Regions from separate parts of the Homo sapiens genome. Here region 2 is linked to region 1. The links come from fine-mapping of genetic effects on gene expression. Tissue or cell type: whole blood. Region 1 holds a variant in brackets; the other region holds the start of a gene. All regions are shown on one strand. Distances are between the middles of the regions.

The links. PIP is the estimated chance that this variant, and not a neighbour inherited with it, causes the effect.
Region 2: MSC starts here. The variant in region 1 is fine-mapped to the expression of MSC in whole blood (TOPMed, PIP above 0.99).

Annotation. Positions count from the first base shown.
Region 1 is chr8:71,998,830-72,001,676 of GRCh38, reverse strand. The region is part of intron 4 of MSC-AS1 (MSC antisense RNA 1); the gene reads right to left. Among named protein-coding and RNA genes, the nearest start is that of TRPA1, 75 kb to the left of the region's middle. The variant G/A (reference allele first, on the strand shown) is at 1,301.
Region 2 is chr8:71,843,398-71,845,897 of GRCh38, reverse strand. It overlaps MSC (musculin), which reads left to right and starts at 1,486. Exons shown (of 2, transcript NM_005098.4): 1 at 1,486-2,253. The coding sequence starts at 1,720. MSC-AS1 (MSC antisense RNA 1) reads right to left here. Exons shown (of 5, transcript NR_033652.1): 1 at 2,194-2,500; 2 at 1,476-1,669. RefSeq lists silencers at 1-28, 1,868-2,137.

The DNA of each region.
Region 1 (2,847 bases):
GAACCTCTGTTCTATTTCATAACGGCAATTTTAATATGGAGTGTATTGTCATTTTCATTTAGTTAGGAGATGTCAAATTTGATAATATGCCTATTATAGTATTTGATTACGTGGCAAATGATAAACTAAAAGCAATTTTATTTTTTCTTAATTCTAACCCTGAAAACCACTCTGTGGACTTTTTCTATTCTAGCCTTTTTTAGAGAATAAAAAGTTCAGTATGAGAACTAAAGATTCTCACCAACTTTGAAGTTTCCCCTTTCCTAGCCTGGTTTGCCTCCAGCTTAGAAGCCTGCAGTATAGAGGGGATAAGTTATAATTTGCCCCTTTTCTCTTTCCCCACCAATCCCTCCTTCCACACTCAGTGTGCTGCCCCTGGCTCCTCCAGGAGGGGAAAGGAGAAGTCTTACTTGAGCAGGACAGCTCTAATCTAACATGGATACCGCTTGGGTATGAGAGATATTTAAAGCTGGCTCTCTTGGGAGACAGTTTTGTGAAGGCATTTGGAGATTACAGTCCCCTGGTATGGGCTATGTCTCCTCTGCTGGTCCCTTGCAACTCCCCACGCTTACCTTTTATATCCAATATTGTATATCTAGGCTTTAGGAGCTTAGGCTGCTTCATCCCTAGCTGAAAGTCCTTTGGGAGGGCTCTTTACAAGATAGGGACTGGCTGCTTCCCTCCTGTATGGTCTAAACGTGGCCTATAGAAGTGTATACCCTTGCCCATCACTGGGGGAGAGGCCGCTTGCTTCCTAATCTGCCCTCCATAACTTCAGAAGTATAATTTAAAGTGGCGGTACTCAATCAAAGCCTGTACACTGTACAAGAGTTAAAACTGAACCAGAAGAGAAACAGAAACTGTGAAGGGTCATCACTTAACTGTTCTCTAGAATTTTCAGAAGAACTGGCCTATTTATTGCTTGTCACTGTGCATGCACTTATTCATAGAAGTAGTTACAAGATTATAAGATACTCTCACAATGTGTGATGTCCCTTCATGCCAGGTCAATTCTCACTAAGGGACCTTTGCTAATTCTTAAAGTACCTCCTTACTTGGCATTTCCGGAAGACCACTCAGCATCACATCTGAAAGTAGCAAGATTAGTCAGCATCATGTATGAACCCAGAAGATTAGTCAGAAGCAAAAAAAAAAAAAAAAAAAGCATTTCTTGGGCACTTGTTTCGAAAGCAAAGGGTCTAACCACCAATCACAGTTGCATTCTGAAAGACATTGTAGTAAAAAGTAGGGCGCAAAGTCACTTCTAGCTAGCCAGTCAGCAATGCGGGGGCCCCTAAGC[G/A]TGCTAATTATGGTGAGGTTACAAAGGAGCTGCAAGGCTCAGCCTCATTAGTCAAGTTGCTCACACTTCAGCTGGGGAGGTGACATTTCTTTCAATTTAACTAAACTTAAGAGGTTCAGTGAAATAAATTGTATTTCATAAACTTTGGGGGGCTCAGAGAATTGTCCTCATTCTTTATTTTAAAAATCTATTCATTATGAACTTCACACTTAGTTCAGATGTCACTGGGTAATCAATAGACAGTGAATGGTAGAAGAAAATGGATCTGGCAATGTCATATAGTAGTAGTTGCACAATGTGATATATAAGGAAAGGTATTACATTATAGTGGAAAGAAATCACAATGAATGCTGCTGAAATCATAGGATTGATTTTGGGGCCTTTTTTTTTTGAGACAGGGTGTTGCTCTGTCACACAGGCTGGAGTGCAATGGTACAATCAGGGCTCACTGCAGCCTTGACCTCCTGGGATCAAGTTATCCTCCTGCCTCAGCCTCACAAACAGCGGGGACCACAGGTGTGCACCACCATGCCCAGCTAACTTTTTTATTATTTGTAGAAATGGGGTCTCACTCTGTTGCTCAGGCTGGTCTCGAACTCCTGGGCTCAAGCCATCCTCCCACCTCAGACTACCAAAGTGCTGGGGTTACAGGTATGCACCATCATGCCCAGCCTGATGGATTTGGGGAGAAATATGTAATGGAGCAATGAAACATAAACATGATGAAGGAGTTGGGCAGAGCTAAACTCCATAGAAGCTGGGGTAAACACAACTTGTTCCACAAACAGAGATGGTTCTTATAACTTTGGCTCTCGTGGGAGCAGATGGCTTATGTCTGATTCCAGTCTGTGGTAGCAAGCCTCTCCTTTATGTTGAGCAAATGGGAAATTGCAGCCAAGGCAGGCACTGTTAAGACCCAGCAATCTGCTGTACATCAAACTGCACACTATAGATGGCAATGCTTCCTGAATTTACGGATTAATACTTCAGAGCTTTAAACAGTAAATAGCTAGATCTGTTGATCTCAACATGGTGTACTTGGAAATTAAGACAAAATGAAGGAAATAATTTACTGTTACAGTAAAGGCTCTGAGTATAATGTTTATCATGTAACATTCCTTTCCTTAGAAAATGTGGGAAACTATGTTGTGGGAGCTTATAAAATAACAGAAAATGTTTGTTCTGTGAGGAAAAGCTAAGTGCACTCTTTCCTTTCCACCATGTATCACTGGGTGCAATTATGTGTCAAGTGGGTCAATAACTGAATTGAAAGTAAGAATCTTCCCTAAGGTTTCCCATGCATGTGTTTTTTCAGAGATTCATTTTTGTTTGTCCAAAATGAAGAATTTGTCTTTATTCAGAAATGTGATCATCAAACACTTGCCCTGAACCTGTGCTCTGAGTCTTCCTTGGGGGAAGCCGTCAACCTCCTTGTTAGAGAATCCTTTGGGAGGCAAAAGATAGAAGCGATCCCAAAGAGGTCCTGGGATTTGCTCAGGGATGAGCAAATAGGAAGTGACCAGGACAGCACTGGCACCCTGGGCTTC
Region 2 (2,500 bases), 160 kb after region 1:
GCCTCTGCCAGCCACCTGTTGCAGCACTTCAGCCATCGAGCTGGACGCATTTGTTCTGCTGTACGAACTGGCGGGAGCCAGGCTGGCCCAGCTATCTCTGCCAGCTCTGTCCTGGACTGACTCCACATAGGTCCCCTTGCACCTTGCTCAGCTTGGGAGCCTGTGGACTTTCAGGAAAAGAACAAGTGAACACCTAAGCCTGTGTGACGACTCAGTTTCATCATTGTAAAATGGGGTAACCATATGCCAAACTCATACGGGTTTTATTACTCAGTGAGCTGCTCACAAGCCGCGAGTACAGTGACGGGCACACAGCGGGCACTCAGTCTCTGACCACTGGGGCCCGTATCCACAGACGTACTTATCCCCTGACCAGGAACTGCGATGACCTTCGAGTTAGGAAATAATGAGACTGCAAAATTGTTGTGTTTTCTTGTGTGGAAGAGCAGGATGTTTTAGTCTTGTTTGGAATGGAACATGATCATTCAGGGTGCTCCTTTGTCGTTTTTACTTTGAATGGACGATTGTGCTAACTTAGCATTCTGCTTCCAGGAGCTCGCTCTTCAATACACAATCTATTAAATACAATAGCAAGGATTCCCTACATTATAATGCAAAGCTTTAGGGCCGGATCCTCCAACACACGCATTGTGGTATTAAAACAAAATCACATCACGCATGGAACTCTCAAGATAGTGGAAAATACCAGCTACAACATCCAGTGATGTGTGACCCGGAGGCACGGAGCTGACTAGAATACCGACGGGCCAGAATTTCAAAACGCGGATTTTGAATCTTTTTTTCTACTTAGCCTAATAAGTTTGGGTCTTTTACTTAACGTCTATCTAGGCGGCTCAGCTTCAAGTTCTGCAAATTGGAGATAATATCATTAAGTTACAGATGTTATTTGAAAAGGCAACGAACCATTGTAACCATTTTTGTAAACCATGAAGGTATATTATAAGAAAAGGAGGAGGAAAATGAGAGGTAACTTGTGCATTGTTGGATGTTGTTTGCCTGTTCTGCTTTTTCTCTTGTCCAGCAAGGCTTGGGTAGACAATCATACATCATGAATGGTTAACTTGAAAACTGAGTTCTACTGGAAAGACTGGCAGGCAAGCAGAGGTCGGAATCCCGTCGTTTCTAAGTGTCTGGTAATCTTTGCCACTGCTAAGATTACCTGGGGGTAGAAGCACCGTCGGTAGGAACAAGATGTGCCCCTTCACTCCCCGAAAGCTCACTTATCCTGCGCAGACATGTTGAAGGGCCGTCGGGCTTCAGAGCCCAAATCTCGGCTCTGCAGAGACGTCCCCTTCCCCCGCCTCCACCAACCGCTCTTCGGCATGCAGAAAAGCGGTCCCCACCCCTTCCACGCCCCTGCCCCACCTCTTGGCCCCCTTTACAACCCCCTCTTCTTTGCCCGGGGTGGTTTGTTCCAAGGAGTACAGATAGCCTTTTCAAAAGGCGCAGCTTACCGCGGTGCGCGCGGATTCTGGACTTGGGCGCCAACTCGTAGTCCACGCTCCCCGGGGTCAGCAGAGGGGCGCTCACGCTCTCGCCACCCACCTCGCTTTCTCACCCCGCGCTTCCCGGCCTGGGTTTTTAGTCTTCCTTGGAGCGCTCTCTGGCCTCCGCCTCCGCCAGGGAGCGGAAGGCGGAGACAGCGAGACTGGCCAGGGGGGAGGAAAGAGGACGCGTGTGGGCAAGGGGGACAACGGGATGTCCACGGGCTCGGTGAGTGATCCGGAGGAGATGGAGCTTCGGGGGCTGCAGCGGGAGTACCCGGTCCCCGCCTCCAAGAGGCCGCCCCTCCGCGGCGTAGAGCGCAGCTACGCCTCGCCCAGTGACAACTCGTCGGCAGAGGAGGAGGACCCCGACGGCGAGGAGGAGCGCTGCGCTCTGGGCACAGCCGGCAGCGCGGAAGGCTGCAAGAGGAAGCGGCCCCGTGTGGCTGGGGGCGGCGGCGCAGGTGGTAGCGCGGGCGGTGGTGGCAAGAAGCCCCTCCCGGCCAAGGGCTCAGCCGCAGAGTGCAAGCAGTCGCAGCGGAACGCGGCCAACGCCCGTGAGCGTGCCCGGATGCGCGTGCTGAGCAAAGCCTTCTCCAGGCTCAAGACCAGCCTGCCCTGGGTGCCCCCCGACACTAAGCTCTCCAAGCTGGACACGCTCCGGCTGGCTTCCAGTTACATCGCTCACCTGCGGCAGCTGTTGCAGGAGGACCGCTATGAGAACGGCTACGTGCACCCAGTGAACCTGGTAGGGGCGCGGCGCGCAAGGATTCGGGAGAGCAGCCAGGAGATACCCAGGGCGCTCCTGGGCGCCGGGCAGGGTCAGCCCGTTGGGAAGAATTCGAAAGGGGTGGAGGTTCTGGGACTGGGAACGAGAAGGCCAGTTTAGTTTCTCCCAAATCAAGGGAGTGGCCAGCCATTTCCCTGAAGAAGAATCAACCCTCCGTGTCTGTTTGCATCGTTCTGAACATTGTACCCCAGTGACAGCCATTGAC